2 separate regions of the Homo sapiens genome follow, and region 2 is linked to region 1. Evidence: fine-mapped QTL for protein levels in blood plasma. A gene starts in region 1. The other region holds a variant in brackets. All regions are shown on one strand. Distances are from middle to middle. Region 1 holds the start of CDNF (cerebral dopamine neurotrophic factor). Region 2 overlaps CDNF (cerebral dopamine neurotrophic factor).

Region 1 (10,767 bases):
CCATATTAATGTGATTAGAAGAAAATATAAATACTTTATTAATTATGTATAAATAATAATGTAAAATATTTTGATAAGTTTGATTAATTGTCTTGGTAAGAAATGGAAAGCCCACCCACTCTTAGGATGCTAAATTCTTATTGGGAATTCAGTTTCATAATTTCATTTAAGAAAACGTAGAATTGGGCTGGGCATGGTAGCTCATTCTTGTAATCCCAGCACTTTGGGAGGCTGAGGTGGGTGGATCACCTGAGGTCAGGAGTTCAAGACCACCCTGGCCAACATGGTGAATCCCTGTCTCTACTAAAAATACATAATTAGCAGGGTGTGGTGGTGCACACCCGTAATCCTAGCTACTCGGGAGGCTAAGGCACAAGAATGCTTTGAACCCAGGAGGCAGAGGTTGCAGTGAGCTGAGATGATGATACTGCACTCTAGCCTGGGCAACAGAGCAAGACTCTGTCTCAGAAAAAGAAAAAAGAAAACATAGAATTGGTTATCTGTGGTGTACTCAGAAAGTAAAGTAACACTGGAAATATTCTGGATGAAAACACGCAGAACTACATGTCACTGGAAGATGGATTTCTGCTTGCTGCGTGCTCTAAAATGGACATACTTGAGGCAAACATGTAAGTAGGAGGACTTCACGTCTAAGAAATGAAACTATTAGCAGTATTCTTCAAGCACATGGGGAAAATGAAAGGTGAAATTTACTATACCAGGCGGTTTTCTTTTCCTTTGGTGTCCAAGCAAAAACTGATCAATTCTTTCTCTATAGTGTCCAGCGAAAAGTTAACTCCTCTGTCTATCAGTGACTTGTAGAATCGGTTCAAGAATTCTTTACATACTGGAAGGAACAAATAAATATGTCTGCATGCACAACTTAACCACTACCACACCTATGCATATGACCCACTAACCACATTTAAAAGTCTATATGGGGCTGGGCATGGTGGCTTACCCCTGTAATCCTAGCACTTTGAGAGGCTGAGGTGGGCAGATCACAAGGTCAGGATATCGAGACCATCCCGGCCAACATGGTGAAATCCTCTCTCTACTAAAATACAAAAAATTAGCCAGGCATGGTGGCGCGTGCCTATAGTCCCAGCTACTCAGGAGGCTGAGGCAGGAGAATCACTTGAACCCAGCAGGTGGAGATTGCAGTGAGCCGAGATCTTACCACTGCACTCCAGCCTGGCGACAGAGCAAGACTCCATCTCACACACAAAAAAAGAAACGTCCATATGAGTCAATGCTTCATGACAGTGGATTCCAATGCTAAGTAAGAATGATTTGGGGGCCAGGCATGGTGGCTCACACCTGTAATCCCAGCACTTTGGGAGGCAGAAGCAGAAAGATCACTTGAGCCCAGGAGTTTGGAGCCAGTCTGGACCACATAGTGAGACCTTGTCTCTACTAAAAAAAAAACACAAAAAAACAAAAACAAAAAAACACCAGGCATGATGGTGAATGCCTGTCGTGTCAGCTACTCGAGAGGCTGAGGTGGGAGGGTCACTTAAGCCCGGCAGATGGAGGCTGCAGTGAGCTATGATCAAGCCACTGCACTGCAGCCTGGGTGACAGAGTGAGACCCTGTCTCAAGAAAATTAAAAATATAAATAAAAAGAATGATTTCAGGCCTGTTGCTATTAGTTTAGTATTGGGCCTAAATGCAGTGGACACATTGTAACAGCATATTGAATCAATCAATCATTGGAACGAAGTTCTACCTAAAATGATAACTTTTCCACAAAATTTGGCTAACCCTAAAATAAAATAGGCTATCATCTTGGGACAGCATAATTGTAAGCACAGAGAAAAACCTGAATAAGAATCCTGAATGAAGCCCCTTGGTGATCTGCATAAGTCTTTATTTCCATCGTTATGAGCCTAAAGTGAAATCAGGCTGGGCATAGTGGATCACACCTGTAATCCCAACACTTTGCAAGGCCAAGGCGAGAGGATCTCTTGAGGCCAGGAGTTTGAGACCTGCCTGGGCAACACAGTAAGACTCTGTCTCTGCACACACCTGTGGTCCCAGCTACTGAGGAGGCTAAAATGGGAGGCTTGTTAGGTCATTTCTTCTAGTTCCTTATATCTTGAAGATACTTTCAAGCTTGTTTTTTATATCTTTAAACACACTAAACTTAATTATGATCTGTGTGTGAAAATTTCAATATCTGAAGTCTTCAGAGTTTTTTTTGTTTGTTTGTTTGTTTTTTAAGACGAAGTCTCGCTCTGTTCACCCAGGCTTAAGTGCAATGGCGCAATCTCAACTCTCTGCAACCTCTGCCTCCCTGGCTCAAGTGATTCTCCTGCCTCAGCCCCCCAAGTAGCTGCGATTACAGGCGCTCGCCACCACACCCTGCTAATTTTTATATTTTCAGTAGATACGAGGTTTCACCATGTTGGCCAGGCTGGTCTCAAACTCCTGACCTCAAGTGATCTGCCCATCTCGGCCTCCCAAAGCGCTGGGATTACAGCCACTGCATCAGGCCCAGAGTACGTTTCTATTTGTTGTTGTTTCTATAGGTTCTTGTTCCTGGTGCCTCGTTTCTTTGTGTGCTTGCTTATTTTGCGCCACACGATACTCATACGTCTCAAAACTTATTTGTGAAGATTGTTTGAAGCCTGAGATGAAGGAGCATTATTTCCAGTAAGGATTTGTATTTGTATTTCTCAGGGACTAAGGGCAACTAGCCAGGCACTGCTTTAAACTAAATATATAGCTTGAAGTTTTTGGGCCCCGATGTGAATTTTGGCTGCAAATACAAGTGAGGGACGTTTTGTTGTTATCATTTCTCAGAGATATATATTTTTTCTTTTTTCTACTTTGCTCAGTGTCAAGGTAAATTTCCTTATAGTCCCCTATGGGTAGGGATGGGTTCGGTTTATGTTCTATGTTTCTTTAAACATAAAAAAACATAACTTCTATGCCTGATTATTCCAATACCTGAAGCCACTGCAGGGGTGTGCCTCTTCTGTTTTTTGTTCCAGCTGGCTCTCACTTATGTGCCCTTCTTCCCTAGGGGTTCATGACTTTTCTAAGTGGCAGCTCTATTTCTTAGAACTTTAACTGTATGAATTCTTTGAGGACTAGGTTGAATGTGGGTTCCTGTAAGTAAGACTCACATTTGCTGGCTGGGCACGGTGGCTTATGCCTGTAATCCCAGCACTTTGGGAGGCCAAGGTGAGTGGATCACCTGAGGTCAGGAGTTCGAGACCAGCCTGGCCAATATGATGAAACCCCGTCTCTACTAAAAATACAAAAATTAGCCAGGAGTGGTGGCAGGTGCCTGTAATCCCAGCTACTTGGGAGGCTGAGGCAGGAGAAATGCTTGAACCCGGGAGGCGGAGGTTGCAGTGAGCCGAGATCACACCATTATACTCCAGTCTGGGCGACAAGAGTGAAACTCCGTCTCAAAAAACAAAACAAGACAAAAACAAAAACAAGACTCACATTTGCTGATTCCTGAGGGTATGATCTACTTAAAATCACTTTCAACTAAATTATCAGTTCGAGATGTTTCAGATCATCCTAGTAGTGTGAATGGGGCCTTTGACCCCTACCTATGTGCACGAGCTTGTAATTATGAGTTATCAAGAAAGTTTTGTTTTTCCTTTTATCAGTAAAAATGTTCAAGTGAAACCATTTCTTTTAGTCTCTAAAGATGGAAATAGGTTGTAGTTACTTTCAGTTCACCCTTTATAATGAAGGGCTAGGTCTTTGGGGCCCTGAATTAGTTGGTAGAGGATCTGCTCTCACTCTCCTAACTTGGAAATGCCTGGGACTTGTGTTTATTTAGCCAAAACCATGAAAACTTCAGTTCAGATCACCTGGCTAACAAATGCTCCCAGGTAAAGCCAGCTTCAGTGCTCCCTTCAACCCCCTGGACTCCCACTTCCACTCTGTGGTTGGCTTCTGGGTATGCCTTCCCAACTCATACTTTACAATATTTTCACATTTTTATTTTATCCAGTATTTTCAGTTGCTTTTAGATGACTGGCCAATCATGTCATCTTTTAGAGCTTAAAGTCATATATATATATATATATACACACACATATATATACTGTATATACATATATATAAAATACATATATACACATATATAATACATATATACACACACACACACACACATATATATATATATATTTTTTTTCAAGATGGAGTCTCGCTCTGTTGCCTAGGCTAGAGTGCAGTGGTGTGATCTCGGCTCAATGCAACCTCCACCTTCTGAGGTTCAAGCAATTCTCCTGCCTCAGACTCCTGAGTAGCTGGGACTAATGGCGTGTGCCACCACACCCAGCTAAGTTTTTGTATTTTTAGTAGAGACAGGGTTTCACCATGTTGGCCAGGACGGTCTCGATCTCCTCACCTGGTGATCTGCCCACCTCGGCTTCCCAAAGTGCTGGGATTACAGGTGTGAGCCACCGTGCCTAGCCCATATATTTTTATTTCTAATGCTATCAACATGAACAGAATACTAAACATAATAGCCAGTTATTCATGTTTTTAACAAATATTTACTAAGCGACTAGTAAGTGCAAAACAGTATTCTAGGTTCCTAAGATTCAGTAATGAAGAAAACAAAGAACTTGCCCTTGAGAGTTACATCCGATAGAAGTAAAGGTATACGTAGCAAAGAAGAAAAATAAACATGGTAAGGAGGATGGAGGGTGACAAGGTAATAGTACGATTCTTAATGGATTGGTTAGGAAAGATCTCTTAGATAAAGTGATATTCAAGCAGACACCTGAAGGAAGTGGAAGAACAATTTAAGTGGATGACTTGAGGAAGAACTCCGCAGGCAGAAGGAACAGCAAGTACCAAGGCTCAAATGCAGGAGTGTCCTTGGTGGCTTCAAGGAACAGCCAGAAGGCCAGTGTGGCTAAAGTAGAGGGAGCAAGAGGGAGGTGTGTAGCAAATGAGATCAAATAGGCAGCAGCATGCTGGGGCATCCAGGGCCTTTCAAGCTTGGTAAGGTCTCTGGATGTCACTCTGAGAAGGGAAGCCATTTAAGGTTTTGAGTAGAGAAGAGTTATGGTCCGACATGATTCATAAAGGATGTCTCTGAAGGCTGTCTGAAGAATGGATTACAAGGAAGCAGAAAAGAAAGCAGGGAGACCAGCTGACCAGTTTAGAGGTTCTCAAAATAGTTGCATCTCTTAGACCAGGGCAGTAGCTACAGCAGTCATGAGAAGTGGTTACACTCTGGACCTATCTTGAAGGAAGAGCCAAAAGAATTTACTAATAAGCCAGATGTAATGTGTCAGAGTTGGGGAGAGAGAGAGGAATCAAAGATAATCCCAATAATTTTGGCCAAGAAACTGGAACCGTGGAGTTGCCATCTGCTGAAATGAGGAAGACTGCAGGAGAAGCAGTTTATGGTGACAAGCAGGAATCTAATCTTTCTTTTTTTGCTTTTTTTTTTTTTTTTTTTTTTTTTGAGACAGAATCTCGCTGTGTTGCCCAGGCTGGAGTGCAGCGGTGCCATTTCGGCTCACTGCAACCTCCAACTCCTGGATTGAAGTGATTCTTGTGCCTCAGCCTCCTGAGTAGCTGGGATTACAGGCGCATGTCACCACACCTAGCTAATTTTTGTATTTTTAGTAGAGATGGGGTTTCGTTATGTTTGCCAGGCTGGTCTCTAACTCCTGACCTTAGGTGATCTGCCTGCCTCAGCCTCCCAAAGTGCTGGATTACAGGCATGAGCCACCATGCCTGGCCAGAATCCAGTCTTGACATATGAAGTTCAAGATGCTTCTAGACGTCTGTGATGGTTAATTTTATGTAGCAATGATGAAATTAACACTTAAATTGATGAACTCTGGGTAAGGCAGATTGGCCTCCATAATGTGGGTGGGCCTTACCTAACTACTTGAGGGCCTGCACAGAACAAAATAGACCAGCCTTCCTGACGAAGAGGGAATTCTCCAGCAGACTCCCTTTAGACTTCCTTCGTACCACAGGCTCTCCTGGGTCTCCAGCCTGCTTGCCCACACTGCAGATTTTGGACTTCTCAGCCTTCACAATCTTGTGAGCCAATTCCTTATAATAAATCTCTTTTTACATAGATAAATATTACAGATATTAAGAAGATATATAGATATAGATTATATGTTCTGTTTGGTCCTATTGGTTTTATTTCTCTGGAGAACCTTGACTAATATAACATCCAACTGGAAACAGTGAGAAGGCAGCTAGATATAGAAATGTGAAGATCAGGTATAAGATCTAGGATGACTATATAAATCTGGAAGCCATCAACATTCAAATGGTGTTTTTGAGATGAGAACACAAAGTAAGGAGAGACGGAAAAGAGACACAGTCCTGGGTCTCAGCCTTGTGAAATCCCAATGTTTAGCAATTGGGAAGATGGAAAACAACCAGAAAAAGACGGAAAGGAGCAGCCAGTGAAGTAGGATAAGAACAAAGACTGAGTGTTATTCCAAAAGGCAAGTGAACACAGTGTTAAAAGGAATGTGTAATGATCTGCTATATTACACGTGGAAAATGAGATCCCTCTCAACATGTATTTTGCTGAGTTTAATTAGCAAATATATCCAGTATGCAAAGCAGAAACCTGCTGTAATGATTAATGCTACAAGTCAGCAGAAACTATCATCAGGCCAGGCACGGGAGTTCACACTTGTAATCCCAGCACTTTAGGAGGCCAAGGCTGGCGGATCGCTTGAGCTCAGGGGTTCAAGACCAGCCTCGGCAACATAGTGAAACTTCATCTCTATTAAAAATACAAAAAATTTGCTGGGTGTAATGACAAGCACCTGTAGTCCAGCTACTCAGGAGGCTGAGGAGGGAGGATCACTTGAGCCTGGAAGACGGAAGTTGCAGTGAGCTGAGACTGTTCCACTGTACTCCAACCTGGGTGACAGAGTGAGGCTCTGTCTCAAAAAAAAAAAGAAAAAAGAAAAAGAAACTATCATCAAAGTCTCCTAGGAGCCTCTAATTCTTGTCTCCTACAAAAGAAACCCCCAGTATTCCAGTGCCTCATCACTCTTGTGGTATTTCCCACAGTATACCTTCATATGATTTCTATACCTCAACTATCACTCTGCCAATGTATCATCTAGGTGATGAAAGTTAGGAATACTAACTTGTCCTTTTCAAGATCTACATTTGACTCACTAAAATATACCCAAAATTTTATCACAGCATATATGCATACATTTCTTCAACAAACTGAGCGCCTACCATATGCCATGCACTATGGTAGCTGCTGGACATGAGGTGGTGAGAAACACTGCCTTGACTTTCAGAGGAGACCAAAACAATATGAGAAGTGTATCAGATACTGTGGGAAAACAAAGGAGCGGCACCTGGAGGAAACTGGGAAACTGCTGAAAGATACTAAATAAGGAAGTAATATGATAGCCCTGCCAGGGGACTAGACAGGAGGGAGACAGGTAGCAGGAAGAATGCTATTTTGACAATGCGGAGGGGAAAACTGCTGAAGTTCTGTAAGGAAGTCCTAGACTTGAGTAAGGAGAAAGGAGCAGGACCAGTCAGGAGGTAGACTCAACGATGTAGTGATTGGTTGGGGGATAAGGGGGAAAGAGAAGTCTAGAATCTAGGCTAGGTGACCAGGTAGTTGTCCCATGCTGTCACCGTAAGCATGACAGTAACAGGTTTAGGGGAGTGAGAAGGGAAGGAGATGATGACTTTGGTTTTTTGACTGTGTTGATGTTGATGTACATCATATCTAAGAGGGCATGTTCACTAGTCAATTGGATGCAAGGTCTGAGACTCTAGAAAGGTCAGTGGATATAAGGTTAGAGATTTATTAGACTGGAGGTAGGTTGGTTTGGGTTGCCAAGAAGAGTGTGTAGACTGAGAAGAGAGAAGAGAAGAGAGCAGAACCCTGGAAAATTCTAAGCCATGGCTAGAGGATCAGAAGCCCACAAAGACACACTGGACAAGTGGGCATAGAGACAGGAAGGAGAAAAGCAGTATCATGACCATGAAGAGAAGGCAGTCTCTGAAAGGGAAAGATGTCAATGGTGTCACACACCACAAAGAAGTCAAGGTAAGAAAGGAAACTCATTTTCTGGACTTACATGAAGAGAATAACCTCACCATAAATGCCCTAACAAATTAGTAGCTTCTTAAGTTTTCTGGGATGTCTTTATTGCTAAAATAACCTCAGATAGCCATACTTCTTTTATTTATATTGTGCTTTTATGTTTATTAAAGATAGTTTTATAAGTGAATCTATAATTATTTTAAAATAAAAAGTTATTTAAAATAGTCCCATAATATAATCCTTTAAAAGAGATTTGGAAATATTTATGTTTTTCCAGTAAACCTCACATTACCTAATAATAGGACTCACAGACTTGAATATCTACAGGGGCCAGGCAAGGAAAAAGAAGAGTTAAGCAATTTGAATCGGGGGCAGAGTAGGGGCGGCAAACTACTCAAAACCCAAGTCCTTTCTAAAAAGAGCAGCCAATAGCCAATTCTACTATACAGCCATAAGGCCAATCTTGCCAGGTCATCTGGTTTTTTGAGAAAAGCCAGAAATATGAATTTTTACATAAAATTTCCCAATTTTAAAATGTACCCAGTGAATTTAATTTTTTTCAAAATATTTTGTAAATGTAACGAAACATATCAATAGGTCCGAGACGGCTCAGGAACCATTCAGTTTTTTTGCCTTCGCTCTAGAGTATGTATAATATGGCATTTTAATCTTATACATTGAGAAGAAATTAAGTTGTAAATAAGAAAGGAGGCTGAGGAGGGAGGATCACTCATAAGCAGTAATAGAGCTGGATGCAGAATCTGGTTCTTTTAGTTACCAAACTGTTATGTCCTTCCTCTGCGATTACACAAGCTTCTTTACCTAACAAATGAAATATATAGACAGGTTAGTCAGACATGCAATAATCACAGCATGCTGTAATAAATTTAGGACAGACAGCATAAGCTTCCCATTTAATTAATCCAGATGCTGTCTCTCTTGAAACATTTATAAGTGGGAGCCCCAGATGAGTCATCAAATCAATTGTCTTTGCCTCACAAAGTCTGTTTTAAAAGTATAGGACACAATTATAGCATGGTTTGGAGCAAAATTATAACTTAGCTAAACAAATATCTTTATATCGAGTAATAACATGTAGATATTTTAAATTTCTGGAGAAAAGTTTAATTATTGCAGAGCTCATAGAAAGCCAGGCTCCAATTATTAACACTTTAAGGACTGGGCGCTGTGGCTCACGCCTGTAATCCCAGCACTTTGGGAGGCTGAGGCGGGCCGATCACCTGAGGCCAGGAGTTCAAGACCAGTCTGGCCAACATGGTGAAACTGCATCTCTATTAAAAATATAAAAATTAGTCAGGCGTGGTGGTGGTGCCTTTAGTACCAGCTACTTGGGAGGCTGAGGCAGGAGAATCGCTGGAACCCGATGATGGAGGCTGCAGTGAGCCAAGATTGTGCCACTGTACTCCGGCCTGGGCAACACAGTGAGACTGTCTCAAAACAAAAACAAAAACAAAAAACAAAACAACAAAACAAACAAAAACACAACTTTAGTACGACTATACCCATCCATTCACTCAACATATATGATGAACCTACAATTTCCTGTTCACTAGGGATATATTTTCCAGCTGAGGGCATATACATTTAAACTAATTATTTTCAGTAAAACATGGAGTGAGCGCTACAGGAGTCCAGAAGGAAGGGGCTAGCATAGCCACTTACCTTCTTTGCCTTTGCTAACAGATCTCTAAAGTGAAGTACGCTGATTTTGCAAAAACCAAAGTCTCAGAGCTAGGGGACTTGGTGGGATACAGACTCACGTATTCTGACTGCGAGTTCACAGCTGAGATACCGTGAACAAAAAGGAACCACTCTTTTGTATTCCTCTCTTTCCCAAGGAGTCAGTGTACTCCTTTGCAAAGCAATTTTCACCTACAGAGTCCTAACAAATATTAGCTATGTCCTCTGATTTAAGCTACTCAACTCAATGCCATGTTTTGTTTTCCTTTGGGGAGTCACCAACTAGCTTGGACTTGAAAGACGTCTTCTGTGCAAGGGGAGGCAAATCTTGCTGGTTGGAAGCAGCAGAATCAATCTGGCGCCAGTATCATCTGAATCTAGCATTCTTTGCACAAACTCTAATCCAAATACAAACCCACCAGCTTTTACTGCTGAAGTTTAATATTCACAGCAAAACCACAACGTGGCCTCACGTTACCACCAGGCCCGGCTTGAGCTTTTTACTCGAGCTGGGCTTGGGCGATCTAAAACGAGGGACAGGGCCTGCATTTCCTGGGCGGAATGTTATTTATAGCCAGGGCCAGGAGAAGCCAAAGCCGACAGCTGCTGCGCCGCAGCGCGGGGCCGCCGCCATGCAAGCAGTTGTCACACCGCTCACCTTCACAGTCGGCCCCTGGCCGCCCCCCGGCCTCCTGGCCCTGCGTCAGCACCGGGTGAGAGACCAAAAGCCCGGCGCAAAAGGCCACCACAGCAACTGGGCTCGCGCACCACATGCTGGGCCAGCAGCTTCAATCGCCTCCGCCACCCGCGCCCACCGCCCACCAAGCTGCCAAAGCGAGCTGAGCAGAATTCGAGGTTGGAAAGAATCTGCCAGTAGTTGCCAGGACAAATGACGCAACTGAACACAGAGTTTCCATTGGCTCTCAAGGAAGGGATAGGAAGGGGGCGGAGTGTAGGAGCCTTTTCCCGTCCCTCCCCGGTTGCGCGTGCGCACTGTGCAGTTTCCGCGGAGCGCAGAG
Region 2 (17,445 bases), 17 kb before region 1:
CCCTCTCCAACCCTTTCCTGTGAGTCTCCAATGTCCACTATACCACTCTGTATGCCCCTGGATACCCACACCTTAGCTCCCACTTATAAGGGAGAACATGAGGTATTTGGTTTTTCCTTGCTGAGTTACTTCACTGAGACTAAGGGCCTCTGGCTCCATCCAAGTTGCTGCGAAAGACATTATTTTGTTCTCTTTATGGCTGCAGTTATATTCTTGTGCGTGTGTGTGTGTGCACGTGCGTGCGTGTGTGTATATGCATATATATCTCATTTTATGTATTCACTCATTAGTTGGTGGACACTCAGGTTGATTCTGTATCTTTGCAATTGTTCATTGTTCTGTGATAAACATCTGAATGCAAGTGTCTTTTTAACGTAATGACTTCTTTTCCTTTGGGTGTCTACCCAGTAGTGGGATGCTGGATTAAATTCTTTGAGAAATCTCCATACTGTCTTCCATATAGGTTTTGCTAATTTACGTTCCCCTCAACAGTGTATAAGTGTTCCCTTTTCACCACATATATACCAACATGTATTGTTTTTTGACTTTTTGATAATGGCCATTCTGGCTGGGGTAAGGTAGTATTTCATTGTGGTTTTAACTTACTATATTTACTATTTATTTAATTCCAATCTCCTTAGGTCATTTATATTTTACTGTTTCTTGCAATCCCTTTAAGAACTCAAAGGTGTGAAGTGTGATGGTGTCTGCTTCCCAAAGATCACTTTAAAGTCCTAGCTCCAAATCACCCAAGTGTCACCCCTGAATTTCTCAGTCTACAAGTTACAAAAATTCAACTCAGGAGACCTGAATTGATTTGCTGGCCTCGGTGGACATATTGCTAAAAATGTCACCTCTGCCTCACTTCATCAGCTATGAGATGAGCCAATGCTCATCTTTGCCTTCATGTAGAATGCTGAGAGAATCAATGGGGTCTGTAAAAGAAAAGTACCATTCAGATTCAGCTCATATTACTGAGGTGTCTGCTCCATGCTAGGTACTCTGTTACATATGTTACTTACATTTTTCCATTTAATCCTCACAATAACCTTATTAGGTAGGCATCATTAACTGCATTCTAAGATGAAACACCAAGGGCCAGGAAAGTTGAAGAACTCCACCTCAGTTAGCACAACTACCCACAGGCAAACCTAGAATTCGAATTCCAATTCAGTCCTCTTTCCACCTTATTATTTCCACTTCCATCTTTGTATGTTCAGAATATTATTACAGTAACAAGATTTTCCAATAGAATGAACCTTTAGGGGCTGGGCGCGGTGGCTCACACCTGTAAACGCAGCACTTTGGGAGGCCGAGGTGGCAGATCACTTGAGGTCAGGAGTTCAAGACTAGCCTGGCCAACATGGCAAAACTGTCTCTACTAAAAATACAAAAATTAGCCAGGTGTGGTGGTACGTGCCTGTAATCCAAGTTACTTGGGTGGCTGAGGCAGGAGAATCACTTGAACCCACGAGGCAGAGGTTGCAGTGAGCCAAGATCACACCACTGCACTCCAGCCTGGGTGACAGAGTGAGACCCTGTCTCAGAACAAAAAAAAAAATGAACCTTCAGGAAATTACCAACAAACTCGTAGAGCAAGCAGACTACAGAGGTCATGTTCAAAGTCTGGGTCTGAACCAGACTTTTGAGCACTTACTGCCCAAGGTCAAGGTGCTGTGACACTACAAACTTTCAGGAGAGGCAAAAACATGTAAATATCTGGCAAGGAAATAAGTCCGGATTTCTGTAAGCAACAAGGAATCTCCTATTCATTTAGGATTGCAGAAGAATGGAGATTTATAAGCAAATATTTAGCTGACAGGAGTAGACGTTTAGAAGTGAGGGGAACACCTGGATTTCTGGGATACACACATACATTCTTAGATATTATTATCTAGCAGGTGAGCAAGTTTACTGCCTGCTAGAAATTGCCCAGCCGAAGGTCCCTCAGAATGTATTTATAGCTGCTCCATCACTAGGAGCCAACATTTGATCCGTTCTTTCCAAAATAGGTCTTAAAAGATTCAAAAGGAAAAAAGGCTAGAGCTCTGTCAACAACGTCTTCTGCAGTCGATTGTAAACAGTGCAGGTAGAGAGACTTATCAGACAGTTGGTTGCAGAGTCTGAACAAGGTGGTCTTTTTTTTTTTTTTTTTTTTGAGACGGAGTCTCGCTCTGTCGCCCAGGCTGGAGTGCAGTGGCGCAATCTCGGCTCACTGCCAGCTCTGCCTCCCAGGTTCACGCCATTCTCCTGCCTCAGTCTCCCGAGTAGCTGGGACTACAGGCGCCCGTCACCAAGCCCGGCTAATTTTTTGTATTTTTAGTAGAGACGGGGTTTCACCGTGTTAACCAGGATGGTCTCCATTTCCCGACCTCGTGATCCGCCCGCCTCGGCCTCCCAGAGTGCTGGGATTACAGGCGCGAGCCACGGCCCGGCCTGACTAAGGTAGTCTTTTTTAGTCTGATGAGAAAGGAGTCCTGAGGGTGGGGGCTGCAGAAAAGAGAAGCAGCTGCTCATTTCAGCTTCTTGGCTCCTGCGACCTGAAGAGGAAAAACCACAGCTGACACACCTGTGTGGGGAAAGAAGCCAAGAGGATGAGCACACTTCCTGGGTGAGTAGTTCGTGCTTACCCTACTCCATGCTCCAGGAAAGGAAGTGGCCCAAAGAAAGAAGTGAGGCACCTTGAGTCCTGGTTTCTGAGGGCCCAGGTGCCCAGGTGCTTTCCAACTTTTTTTTTTTTTTTTTTTTGAGACAGAGTCTCGCTTTGTCACTCAGGCTGGAGTGCAGTGGTGTGATCTCGGGTCACTGCAACCTCTGCCTCCCGAGTTCAAGCAATTTTCCTGCCTCAGCCTCCGGAGTAGCTAGGACTACAGGTGCGTGCCACCATGCCTGGCTAATTTTTTGTATTTTTAGTACAGCCGGGGTTTCACCATGTTGGGCAGGCTGGTATCGAACTCCTGACCTCGTGATCCACTCGCCTCAGCCTCCCAAAGTGCTGGGATTACAGGCGTAAACCACTGCGCCCGGCTTCCAACTTTTACCAGTGTATGGAACGATGGGAGGTAGAGGTTTTGCAAAAGAGCCCAAAGTGTCGGCCGGGCGCGGTGGCTCACGTCTGTAATCCCAGCATTTTGGGAGGCCGAGGCGGGCATCACGAGGTGAGGAGATCGAGACCATCCTGGCTGACACGGTGAAACCCTGTCTCTACTGAAAATACAAAAGTTCACCGGGCATGGTGGCTGGCGCCTGTAGTACCAGCTACTCAGGAGGCTGAGGCAGGAGAATGGCGGGAACCCGGGAGGCGGAGCTTGCAGTGAGCTGAGATCGTGCCACTGCACTGCAGCCTGGGTGACAGAGCGAGACTCTGTCTCAAAAAAAGCCCAGAGTCTCAGTTAGTGATGATGACACCCAGACTGGGTGTCACCACAACCTCTCATTCAAAATCCTGAAATCCAGAAAACTCTGAAAATCAAAACTTCTTTTACATAACTAAATAAGTGACCTGAATTCTTCTGGTGACAAAAGCTGATGTGGATTCACGGGAGGGTGTTACAGGATGCTGCCCCAACCTCATGGTGGGGGAGGGAGGGTGTGCGATAGGGGTATATGCCCCATATTCCCTTTCTAAACTATGAAAAGTTATTAAGTCCAAGAACATCTAGCTCCAAGGATTATGGTAATCGGATTGTGGGCCCGTCTTCTGTCTTTATGTGCTCTTTTTCTTTCTTCTTTGGTTCTTCCCCCCGACCCCCGCCCTCGCTCTGTCATTCAGGGTGGAGTGCAGTGGCGCAGTCTCGGCTCACTGCAACCTCTGCCACCCGGGTTCAAGCGATTCTCCTGCCTCAGCCTCCCAAGTAGCTGTGATTACAGGTGCCCACCACCATGCCTGGCTAATTTTTGTATTTTAGTAGAGATGGGGTTTCACCATGTTGGCCAGGCTGGTCTCAAACTCCTGATTTCAGGTGATTCTCCCTCCTCAGCCTCCTGAAGTGCTGGGATCACAGGCGTGAGCCACTGCGGCGGCCGTTCTTTGGTTCTAAATATGGTTAATCCATCCATTACTCAGCATAGACAGAAAATTCACGATATCTTAATAAGCAGGCATATGTTCACAGAAAATGCACCACTTACCAGACCATGTATGTAAGTTTGCAAGGTCAACCACCAAACCTTGGGAGAGCAAAACCACAGAAGTGGAGCTTCATATACGAAGTCACCACCAGGACAGTGGTTCTCAAACTTGGCTTCACACTGAATCACCTGGGAAGCTTTAACAAAACACTGACACCTGGGACTCTCTCGCCCCTCCCGACTACCACACACAAATGGAAGTAATTGACCTGGCCTTTGAGACGTTTAAACGTTCCCCAGGTGCCTCTGACACACAGCCCAGGTTGAGAGCCACTGGGCCTGGAGGTAAAAAATCCACATTTAAAGTGTGTGCTTTCAAACAGATCCGTTTCACTCACAATGAGCTGCCTGACCTCTGTCAATTACCACACCTAAAATTTTAGTTTGTTCATCTCACACAGCCCACTGGTGGGAGTTGGAAATTCAGCCCCAGGTCTGCCTGCTCGATCCCAATTCTCGAAACTTCTGCCAGTGGAAACATACCAAAAACAAACTGTTGACACATAATACCTGCTACTCATTTCTTTTTCTGTTGATCTTTGTTTTGCGCTACCAGAAAATAATTATTATCAAGGGAAGAATCACCTGATGCACTTCAATTGTAATTTTAATCTCTTGTTGATACTACAAACTCAAGATTTCCATATTAAAACAAAAAGGGGAAACTAAAATAAATGATAGTGACTAATCAAAAGTTTCTAAATGCATAATGATGGTGCACCCAAGAGGATTTCCCTTTTGCTGTTCTACTTTAAACACACAGTGGAAGAATGACTACCTGACTATCACTTCTTTTGGATGAGACTCAAAATCAAAATGCACATCCATCTGCTTAGAAATGACACTGATCAAGAGGTGTTCAAACTCATAGATATGGCCTTTGGATCACAAAATGCTCTCCTGTTTAGGGATCCACTCATTAAATATTTTCTTGTGCTATATGCCAAGCTAATTTGGTCTAAATTTAAAACTTTTTTTTAGTGGAATGTGTATTACAGATTATCCACACCCAAATGAAAAACTACAATTTTAGATTGTGCTCCAAATGTTATATCTGGTCTGCCACGTTTATGTAAGAGCCAAAGTAAAGGGTCTTCTGCTTGGAATTTTTGAAATTTAGACTAGATCTGGAATAATGCCTGTCCCAGACCACTACTGTTGAGACAGGAGAATAAGGTTTGGAGGCAGGGAACCTAAAGCCGATTCATGCTGACTTCCTAGAACTAGATCAAAAGGAAAACCCCAACTTTCCACACCTAAGTAACAAAAGGACCAGAGGCTACTCTCTCCACAACTCCCCCACCCCTTTCTGGGTGGCAGATGAAAAATTGAAAGTACCTCTGATTGGTTGCTCCTCACAACCAATCAGACATTTGCGTAGGAGTGTAGCTTTGTAACTTCACTTCAGCCTCTGATTGGTTACTTTCCGCAACCAGTCAGACTGATTTGCAGGACAAGACTTCATTTGCATAGGAGTGTAACTTTGTAACTTCATTTCAGCCTCTGATTGGTTGCTTTCTGCAACCAATCAGACTGATCATGGGCCATCACTTCATTTGCATGGGGTATATACCAAGTGGCCAATGGAAAACCTCTAGAGGGTATTTGGAGCCCAGAAGATCATGTAACTGGGCCCCTTGAGCCGCTTGCTGTGGCTGTTCCCATCCTGTGGAGTGTACTTTCATTTTCAATAAATCTCTGCTTTTGTTGCTTCATTCTTTCCTTGCTTTGTTGTGTATTTTGTCCAATTCTTTGTTCAAAACGCCAAGAACCTGGACAGCTTGCAGTCAAAAGACCCTCCACCAGTAACACTGTTTAGATGAAAGGTTTCTGTTCTTTGGTTTGGTTTTGTCTGAAATAGAGTCTCGCTCTGTCGCCTAGGCTGGAGTGCAGTGGCGTGATCACAACTCACTGCAGTTTTGATTTCCTGGGCTCAAGTGATCCTCCTGCTTCAGCCTCCCTAGTAGCTAGGACCACAGGTGTGCACCACAACTCACTCCCAGGTAATTTTTTATTTTTTGTAGAGATGGGGTCTCACTCTGTCACCCAGGCTGATCTTAAACTCCTGGGCTCAAGCAATCCTCCCACCTCAGCCTCCCAAAGTGCTGGGATTATAGGCGTGAGCCACCATGCCTGGGCTGGATGAAAGTATTTTAGCCTAGAGTTTTGACACTTTTGTCAGAATGTCCGACTCCTAAATCTTGTATGCTTATGGATTTGGGGGGGAAATACAGATAAAAAATGCATATACGCACAAACACATGCACAGTGAGAGGAGTAGTGATTAAAAATTAAAAAGGAAAAATAGTAGCTACTTCTCATCAAATCAAAAAAGAAGGAAATGCGTAACTGCCTACATCTATGGAAGATGCAAATAGCAAGGAGGAACAAGACTTATTGAGGGTATCATAACCAGGAATCATCACTAAGATGCAGAGTTAGGAAAAATTTATGCTGTGTGGCAAAGATGGTTTGTGGCCACAGACTATTTCCTCCTTCTTCCTCAGTAACCAAAAAAAAAAAAAAAAAAAAAAAAAAATATATATATATATATATATATATATACACACACACACACACATATATATTCATACATATTCATATATATATTCATCATATATATATGATTTTATTTGGGTAACAATGAACCCAACCAAAAGATATTATTTCCTGAACTCCTTTGCAGCCAAGTTGGACATGTGATTAAGTCCTGGTCAGTGATTTAACCTAGCAAACCCATCGCTGGGTAGATACCCAAGGGAATATAAATCATTCTATTATAAAGACACATTCGGCCAGGCACAGTGGTTCACGCCTATAATCCTAGCTCTTTGGGAGGCTGAGGCAGGTGAATCACTTGAGGTCAGGAGTTCAAGACCCAGTCTGGCCGACATGGTGAAACCCCATCTCTACTAAAAATACAAAAGTTAGCCAGGCTCGGTGGTGTGTGCCTGTAATCCCAGCTACTCGGGAGGCTAAGGCACAAGAATCACTTGAACCCGGGAGGCAGAGACTGCAGTGAGCTGAGAGCATGCCACTTCACTCCAGCCTGGGCAACAGAGTGAGACTGTCTCAAAAAAAAAAAAAGTACATGCATGTATATGTTCATTATGGCACTTTTCACAATAGCAAAGACATGGAATCAAGCTAAATGCCCAGCAACGGTAGACTGGATAAAGAAAATATGGTACATATACATCATGGAATACTACACAGCCATAAAAAGAACAAGATCATGTCTTTTGCAGGAACATGAATGGAGCTAGCTGGAGGCCATTATCCTTAGCAAACTAATACAAGAACAGAAAACCAAATACTGCATGTTCTTACTGAGAAGTGAGAGCTAAATAATGAGAACACATGGACACAAAGAAGGGAACAACAAACACGGGGGCCTGTTGGAGGATGGAGGCTGGGAGGAGGGAGAGGATCAGGAAAAAATAACTAGGTACTAGGCTTAATACCTGAGTGACAACAAACCCTTATGGCACAAGTTTACCTATATAATAAACCTGCACATGTACTCCCAAACCTAAAAGTTAAAAATAAATTTTTTTTTAAAAAAACCTTTTTAATAAAAAAGCTCTGGTCAATGGTGTATAAGCAGAGTGTTAAGTGAGATATGAGGGTGGGAGTGGAGGTAGGTAGAGGGAGGGAGGCTCCCTTAAAGAAAGGCTCAGGGCCGGGTGCGGTGGCTCATGCCTGTAATCCTAGCACTTTGGGAGGCCAAGGTAGGTGGATCAACTGAGGTCAGGAGTTCAAGATCAGCCTGGCCAACATGGTGAAGCCCCATCTCTACTAAAAATAAAAAAAATTAGCCCTGCATGGTGGCAGATACCTGTAATCCCAGCTACTTGGGAGGCTGAGGCACAAGAACCGCTTGAACCGGGAAGGCAGAGGTTGTAGTGAGCCAAGATCACGCCACTGCACTCCAGCCTGGGCAACAGAGCGAGACTCTGTCTCAAAAAAAAAAAAAAAAAGAACAAGAACAAGAACAAGTAGTAGCCGGGCACAGTGGCTCCTGCCTGTAATCCCAGCACTTTGGGAGGCCAAGGCGGGCAGATCACAAGGTGAGGGGATTGAGACCATCCTGGCCAACATGGTGAAACCCCGTCTCTACTAAAAATACAAAAATTAACCGGGTGTGGTGACGCGCGCTTCTAATCCCAGCTACTCAGGAGGCTGAGGCAGGAGGATCGCTTGAACCTGGGAGGTGGAGGTTGCAGTGAGCCGAGATCGTGCCATTGCACTCCAGCCTGAGCCACAGAGCCAGACTCCATCTCGAACAAAAAAAAAAAAAAAAGAAGTGGGCTCGGGTTAGAGGCAAGTTCTTTCATGCCTTCTCCCTTCTGAAATAGTAAATTGCAGCATCCAACTAGGCCAACGGGCTAGAAGTGAAACCCACCACTAGGATGGGAAGCAAAAAGTTCAAGCTGAGTCCCTAATAACTGTGGAGCTGCCATATTTACCCTGGACTGGCTACTTCTGGACTTCTTTTACATGGGAGAATAAATTCTTGTACTTTTCTGTTTCATTTTGTTGTTGCTGTTGTTATTGTTACATTCAACTCTATCAAAAACATAACTGATCAAGACTGGTGTGAAAGTCATGAGAATCAGAATGGGGTCACAAATGGTAAGAAAACCCTGAAAACAGAGCTGGGGGAGGCCATGAAAAGAGGGTTCTCAGGCTTGTATGCCTGATAACATAAACAATCACAAAAGACTGCAAAAATCATAATCCTCCACAAAAGCCATCACAACTTCACACAAGAAAATTCTTCTGCAAGGGCATTGACCCGGAGACTATCTGTCCAAACTCAGACTAGCATCACTCTTGTGATTGATCTTTGTGGTCAAGGATAATTATTTCAAAACAATTATGCAATCCTCCTCTTTTTTTTTTTGTCTGAGACAGAGTCTTGCTCCGTCACACAGGCTGGAGTGGAGTAGAGTGGCATGATCTCAGCTCACTGCAACCGCCATCTCACGGGTTCAAGCGATTCTCCTGCCTCAGTCTCCCCCAATAGCTGAGATTACAGGCACGCACCACCATGCCCAGCTAATTTTTTTGTATTTTTAGTAGAGACGGGGTTTCACCATGGTAGCCAGGCTGGTCTGGAACCCCCTGACCTCAGGTGATCCACCTGCCTTGGCCTCCCAAAGTGCTGGGATTACAGGTGTGAACCACCACACCCAGCCCCTCATTTTTATCTTTAAAAACCTTTGTCTTCCTTTACCTCCCTTGAATACGCATAGTTTACTAAGGCTTGTGTATTCCCATTGCAATGCTCTATTCCCAAAACAAACATCTTTTTTTAGAGAGCCTTTCTCTGTTTACTATTTAGGTTGATACTGGCAAAGGGAAAAAAGTATGTATCAGTTGCAGGATCCTTGACCTAGGCCTTTGCTACTCAAAGCGTGGTCCTGGAAGGGTAGTGTGGACATCACCTGGCAGCTCATTAGCAATGCAGAATCTCAGGCCCCACCCCAGACCCACTGAATCAGAACCCCTACTTTAACAAGACTGCCTCTACGCCCAGTTTTTGTTTTTACTTTTCAGCTATTTATTTTTTATTTCAATAACTTTTGGAGTACAAGTGGTTTTTGGTTACACGGATGAATTGTACAGTGGTGAAGTTTGAGATTTTGGCTCACCTGTCACCAGGTAGCATACATTGTACCCAATATGTAGTTTTTTATCCCTTACCTTCCTCCCACTCTCCCTGCTTCTGAATCGCCAATGGCCATTATACCTCTCTTTATGTCTCTGCTTACCCTATAGCTTAGCTCCCACTTATAAGTGAGAACATAGAGGTTTGTACATACAGATTTAGTCTTCCATTCCTGAGTTACTTCACTTAGAATAATAGCCTCCACTTCCATCCAAGTTGCTGCAAAAGAATGATTTTGTTCTTTTTGATGGCTAAGTAGTATTCCATGCTGTATTATGTTTGTTATGCCTGATAACATAAACACATTTTCTTTTTTTTTTTTTTTTTTTGAGACAGAGTCTTGCGCTGTTGCCCAGGCTGAGGTGCAGTGGCGCAATCTCAGCTCACTGCAAGCTCCGCCTCCCGGGTTAACGCCATTCTCTTGCCTCAGCCTCCCGAGTAGCTGGGACTACAGGCGCCCACCACCACGCCCAGCTAATTTTTTGTATCTTTAGTAGAGACAGGGTTTCACCATATTAGCCAGGATGGTCTCGATCTCCTGACCTCGTGATCCGCCCGCCTCGGCCTCCCAAAGTGCTGGGATTACAGGCGTGAGCCACTGCGCCCGGCCAAACACATTTTCTTTATCCACTTACCAGTTGATGGGCACTTAGGTTGGTTCCATATCTTTGCAATTGTGAATTGTGCTGTGATAAACACCATATGTGCAGTTTGAGAAGCACTGATGTAAATTCTCTTTAAAACAAACAAACAAACAAAAAAACAGACTAGATCGGACACAGTGGCTCATGCCTGTAATCCCAGCACTTTGGGAGGATGAGGCAGGTGGATCGCTTGAGGTCAGGAGTTTGAGACCACCCTGGCCAACATAGTGAAACCCGATCTCTACTAAAAATACAAAAATTAGCCAGGTGTGGTGGTGCACGCCTGTAATCCCAGCTACTGGGGAGGCTAAGGCAGGAGAGTCAGTTGTACCTGGGAGTCAAAGGTTGCAGTGAACTGAGATAGCGCCATTGCATACCAGCCTGGGTGACAGAGTGAGACTCTGTCCAAAAAGAAAGAAAAAAAAAAAAAACAGACTAAACACCATGGATACAAATGACTGGCTGAGCACTGTTTCTATTACCTCAATTTGTATCCTGAAGAAAAGACATAGAAATGCGACCCGATTTTGAGGTCAGACACCAAACATAATATTTTCAAACAACACATTTCTTGATAGGTTCAAAATGCAAAAATAAAAACAGATATAAAGGTTATAAGAAGTTTAGAAAAGAAAACTCTGGAGAGGCCGGGCATCGTGGCTCACACCTGTAATCCCAGCACTTTGGGAGGCTGAGGTGGGTGGATCGCTTGAGGCCAGGAGTTCAAGACCAGCCTGGCCAACATGGCAAAACCCCGTCTCTACTAAAAATACAAAAAAATTAGCTGGGCATAGTGGTGGGCGCCTGTAATCCCAGCTACTCGGAAGGGTGAGGCAGAAGAATCACTTGAACACAAGAGGCTGAGTTTGCAGTAAGCTAAGATTGTGCCACTGCATTCCAGCCTGGGCAACAGAGCGAGACTGTCTCAAAGAAACAAAAACAACCAAAAACAAACTTTGGTTTTTTTGAAGATATAATTCAAAATAAAGTAGATGCTTTACAAATGATAATCGAGCTGCCAAAATTCAGAAACAATAATTACTTTGACCATTCATTACACCACAGCTTTGTATTCTCACCTTTCAGTTACATCATATATATATTTCCTTAGGAACCACTAACTCTCTGACATATCAGCTTCCCAGCTGAAAATGCATTTACCTCTGCAGCATTTAGAATTAAAAATTATGTTTTCGATGTATATTTTCAGTCTGAAAATGTCTCCTCCACTCCCTGAAAACAACCCCAGCCAGTAAATGCAATTCTTTGAATAAATAAGGTGGGCTTTTTTGTTTGTTTTTTCATATATTCTGGCAGGGTCTTGCTCTGTTGCCCAGGCTGGAGTGCAGTGGCAGGATCACAGCTCACTACAGACTCCACCTCCTGGGCTCAAGCAGTCCTCCCACCTCAGCCTCCCGAGTAGCTGGGACTACAGGTACACACTATCATGCGCAGCTAATTTTAAAATTTTTGGTGGAGACGGAACCTCACTCTGTTGCTCAGGCTGATCTCTAACTCCTAGACTCAGGCAATCCTCCCGCCTCAGCCTCTTGAAGTGCTGGGATTACAGGTGTGAGCCACTGTGCCTAGCAAACAAGGTGTGTTGAATTAATTAATTTTAGTTAATTTCCAAATAATTTTTCTACAGCAGTTTTTAAAGATATTATGTACATACAATAAAATGCCCAGATCTTAATTATCCTACCAGATGACAATGTTATTAACCCATGTAATCCCCATGTCAATCAAGATATAGGACATTCCCATCACTCCAGAAAGTTCCAAGGAAATGTTTTTTCAGTATTCCCCAGCTGTACCTGCCACACAGAGGCGGACACTTCTACTGTGGGTTTCTTATTCTTATGTGGCCAGAAAATGGAACCAAAGATGATTTTACAACCGAAAGCTGATAAAATAGCATTAACAATGGTAAAGTTCCAAGTTGCCTATGAGTGTTTTTAATATGCTTTAATCTTCCATCAAAAACTTGTCTGATATGTGACTGTAAGGAATGAAAAAGACCTTGAGCTTGGTTCAATTAACAATGTAAATGTTGATATAATTGCCAAACATTGGCTATACTTATACGGTTTCTTGATCTCTCTATTTTCTTTAAGTAGGTTTAAGTGGGTTTTCTTCCAATGGGAAAAACGAGTACTCCTGCCTGACCATTTCTGATACCAAAGAGAGCTACAATATAGAGTGAAAACAGAAAATTCACTTGAAAAAAACTTTTGATTCTGTATTTGGGATTGAAGTTGTGCATTAGATAAGCTGACTGTTGTGTCTTTTGTTTTAGTCCAATATATTTTAAAATTGCATCCAGAGAGGAGTCTCTGAATGCCTTCTTCTTTCTTGGAATCAATTTACTCCATCAATTTGTCAGTAGGTCACTTTTAGGAGACAGGCAATGAAAACTGGCATAGTCATTCCAAGAAACTTATGAGAAAGGAACTTTTAGCTTTTGGTACACTGCAAATGTAAGTTATCAGTAGTATTAGTTTCACTCATAAACCCACGTAACAAAATTCTGAGGAATAATACCAACACAAAAAGCATGAGACCAAATATGATGCATTCCCAGTTATCCTTAATCAACATGTCCATATCCTAGAGAGTCACTTTTCTCTCTAATTACAAGTCACAAATGTGCTGGCATTGGAGATCAGAGCTCTGTTTTGGGGTGTGTCGCTGCATACTTGGGGGCCAGCTCTTGAATGAGATTCACATAGTCAGTTTTTTCTGCACAGGCCCTGCACTCCTCCCCC[C/G]AGCTATGCAGGATCTGCTTCAGCTCTGCCACTCTCATCTTCCGCAGGTCAACTGATGCCAAGTCCAGTGTTTTTTCTAAATGGCAAAAAGGAAAAAAGCCAATTACAAAATAAATGGAAAAAAAATCCCTATGAATCACTTCAAAAGGCATATAGTTTGCTTATCTTGGTGCTGACTACCCTATGATCCAAGGCAGGGAAGAATTCCAGTTTCCATGGAAACCAAGACACACCCAAGGAAAATGTGGTACAGCAGCCCTCTCTATCAGTGGGTTCTGCATCTGCAGATTCAACCAACAGCAGATCAAAAATATTCTAAACAAATTAAAGATAACACTACAACAATTAAAAAATACAAACAGGGCTGGGCACGGTGGCTCATGCCTGTAATCTCAGCACTTTGGGAGGCTGAGGCGGGAGGATTGCCTGAGGTCAGGAATTCGAGACCAGCCTGGCCAACATGGTGAAACCACACCTCTACTAAAAAAAGAAACAAAAAATTAGCCGGGCATGGCGGTGGCATGCCTGTAATCCCAGCTACTTGGGAGGCTGCGGCGGGAGAATTTCTGGAACTTGGGAGATGGAGGTTGCAGTGAGCCGAGATCACGCCATGCACTCCAGCCTGGGAAACAGATTGAGACTCTGTCTCAAAAAAAAAATACAAACAATACAGTATAACAACTATTTACAATGATATGGTTTGGATTTGTGTCTCCACTCAAATCTCACGAGGAATTGTAATCCCCGCTGTTGGAGGAGGGGCCTGTTGGAAGGTGATTGGATCATGGGGGTGGACTTCACCCTAGCTTTTCTCATGATAGTGAGTGAGTTCATGAGGGATCTGGTTGTTTCAAAGTGTAGCACCTCCCCCTTTGCGCTCTTCCTCTTGCTGCAGTCACGTAAGACATGCCTCTTCCTCTTTGCCTTCTGCCATGATTCTAAGTTTCCTGAGGCCTCCCCAGCCATGCTTCCTGTACAGCCTGTGGAGCTGTGAGCCAATTAAACCTCTTTTCTTTATAAATTACCCAGTCTTAGATAGTTCTTTTTCTTTTTTTTTTTTGAGACGGAGTCTCGCTTAGCCACCCAGGCTGGAGTGCAGTGGCATGATCTCTGCTCACTGCAACCACCATCTCCCTGGTTCAAGCGATTCTCCTGTCTCAGCCTCCCAAGTAGCTGGGATTACAGGCACCCACCATCATGCCCGGCTAATTTTTGTATTTTAGTAGAGACAGGGTTTCGCCATGTTGGCAAAGCTGATCTTGAACTTCTCACCTCAGCTGATCCGCCTGCCACGGCCTCCCAAAGTGCTGGAATTACAGGCGTGAGCCACCGCGCCTGGCCAATAGTTCTTTACAGCAATGCGGGAACAGACTAATACAAATAGCATTTTCATTGTATTAAGTATTATAAGTAATCTAGAGATGATTTAGAGTATACAGGAGGGAAGATGCACATGGGTTATATGCAAACACTTAAGCATCAGGATTTTAGTGTCTGAGTATGGTCCCAGAACCCCTCCTGCACAGGTACTGAAGGACAACAGTGTATACAAAGTTATTGGGATAATTTGTGTTTTTAATTTGACTTTCTTTCCAAGAGATTATACTTGCTTCAAAACTAAGGGCCTATGTAGTGCCACAATGTTTACTACCATTTGGAGCATTCTCAAGATCAGTATTCCTAAAACAAATAGCACTGTATCCAAATTGCTGCTGTTAAGGTAACAAGAAGGAAACTCATATATAAAAGGCAATCGGTTCCTTTGGGATGGCCTTGGTTTGCGGCCAACTTGAAACCCATAGATTGTAATTAACCAGCAAAAAGTTATGGTTCACTTTTTCTAGGAAGATGTATCTTCGGCAAAGCAAATGAGCACATACACATGACAAAGCACTATTGGGTTTTAAATAAAAATGTAAAGAAATGCAAACACGTGAATAAAATTAGGAATATTCTCGCTGAACCTTAATTGTTTGGGATCTCTGTTTTGAAACTCACCTGATGCCCAGCCCCTACTGGGATTAGGTTGCTAAATTATCACAGCAGGTACAGCCCTTTGTGTTATTCCCACTTCTCCAATGCTAGGGCTTTGGTGCCAGCCAACCTGGCTTCTAAAATTCTTGCCAATGATACTTGTCACCAACATCTAACCTCCTCTAGCAAGACTACTATTTCGCTGTTTATAGATTATGTGCAGAAAATATCAAGAACTCAGCTACTTCTCAATTGCTGAAAAGATTGAAAAAAAGCCCAAAATACAAAAAATAATAAGCTCATCTGTAATATACCAATAATTATAATTTTCCTATCAGAAAGAGGTACTTTTCCTCTTTCAAAAGAAAGTCTAGAGGGGCATGGGGGCACACACCTGTAATCCCAGCATCTCAGGAGGCTGAGGCAGGAGAATCTCTTGAACCCAGGAGGCTGAGGTTGCAGTAAGCAGAGATCATGCCACTGCACTCCAGCATGGGCAACAGAGTGAGACTGTCAAAAAAAAAAAAAGTGTCTTTTGCCCCTCCCCGCTTGTCCGGTGTTCACTTTGATAATGAATACAACATTTAAGTTTATTTATTAAACAACTAGTGGCAGCCTAGAATTTTTACAGCTTGACTTCTCTTGAAAGTTCTTTCTCTTTTTTACCTCTGAGTAGTAGAACACAACATTTAAAAACATTAAAAACCTAATATTTGTCAAATTATTTGTCAAAACCTTCCGGTAACTCTGTTCTAATTTAAAAGCTGGATGTTAAAAGACTTTTGTATTTAGAGGGTCAGCTATACACTGTGCTCCAGAAAACCCTTAAATTTTTATAGTGATTCCCTATCCTTTTTAAACACAAAGCAAGCAAATGAAAACATTCTTTCAGGTCAAAAACCAAATGGCACCTTCCTAATTGAAAACATACTCCAACTCCACACTTATCTTGCTTGTTAATTTCATGGCTGATCTGACAGAATACTTTTTAAAGTAGAAACTTGCATAGCCCAAATTATTAATCTCCCACAGCACAAAGGTCCCTGTTTAATCTTATCTTTCCTGCTAACAATAGCTGGGGAGGATAATTAAGAACTATTAGTCTATTCAAGATAAGAGGCTGAAGGAGAAAAATACATTTTTTTGTAAATGTCAGTAGTTTCTTTGAGTTTTTCTAGAGAACTTGGTATCTGGCATTAATTTTAAAAAGAGGAAAACCTCTGTGATGCCCCAAAACTCCAAAGTAAAGGTCCACACAAAGATTAAAACTAGTTCATAGCTCCCCAAGGGCCTCTAGTGGCCAGCATCGCCAAAACATTAGGTAGTCATTTCGTCTCAATAATATCTGATTTTTCTATTGTTTAAGGAGCCCTGTAAGATCCCTAGGATATAGGAGAAGGTATTCACAACAAATTTGTTGAATTTAAAAAATCAAAAGAGGTTTGTGATATTGGCTTTTATTTATTTTTATTTTATCTATTTATTTTTCAGATGGGGTTTCACTCTGCCACTCAGGCTGGAGTACAGTGAAAAAAATCACAGCTCACCAGAGCCTTGACCTCCCAGGCTCAGGTGATCCTCCCACCTCAGTCTCCTGAGTAGTTAGGACTATAGGCGCTCAACACCACACCTGGCTAATTTTTGTATTTTTGTAGAGACAGGGTTTCACCATGTTGCCCAGGTTGGTCTTGAACTCCTGGGCTCAAATGATCCTCCTTTCTTGGCCTCCCAAAGTGCTGAGGTTACAAGTGTGAGCTGCCGCGCCCGGCCAAGTTTGTGAATATTGTTTATATGGACTCAGTGATTTCTGCCCCTATTTCATGGCTTGGAAGCCAATAAAAAAGGGATGCCTACTCTAATAACTACCCTGGAAGTTAGGGCTTGTGCTTTGCAAGTTAAGAAATAGGTTGTCTGTGGTAACTTTCAACCTTAAACCTACTTAAAGCTAGCTATGTGGCTATGGTGCATAGGACTATTACACGGCTGTGTTGGAAAATAAGACTAAAATAACTTAGAGGTGGATGCTAATTACTTAGGTAGTTGACAGTACTACACTGGGTATGTAATGCATGCAAAACAATGACTTAAGCAAAAGGAATGAGTGGGATTTCAGGTGTCAAGGATAGGCTGAGGAAGGAATTCCACATCCTTTTATGATACCCACTCAATCTACCCAAATGTCTAGCCCAGATACAAATCATGATAAAAGATCTATCCATGTGAAATGTATGGGGCCAAGGATAACATTTTAAAA

Evidence for each region. PIP is the chance, under the fine-mapping model, that this variant and not a neighbour inherited with it causes the effect. Protein levels are from the aptamer-based SomaScan assay of Sun 2018.
Region 2: its variant is fine-mapped to the plasma level of the CDNF protein (Sun 2018, PIP 0.95). The variant lies in the coding sequence of CDNF. If it changes the protein, the assay may bind it differently, which can mimic a change of level.

The regions. Positions count from the first base shown.
Region 1 is chr10:14,827,426-14,838,192 of GRCh38, forward strand. It overlaps CDNF (cerebral dopamine neurotrophic factor), which reads right to left and starts at 10,612. Exons shown (of 4, transcript NM_001029954.3): 1 at 10,407-10,612; 2 at 720-847. The coding sequence starts at 10,521. RefSeq lists a silencer at 10,665-10,767.
Region 2 is chr10:14,806,866-14,824,310 of GRCh38, forward strand. It overlaps CDNF (cerebral dopamine neurotrophic factor), which reads right to left. Exons shown (of 4, transcript NM_001029954.3): 4 at 12,380-13,293. The coding sequence ends at 13,115. Among named protein-coding and RNA genes, the nearest start is that of CDNF, 22 kb to the right of the region's middle. The variant C/G (reference allele first, on the strand shown) is at 13,218.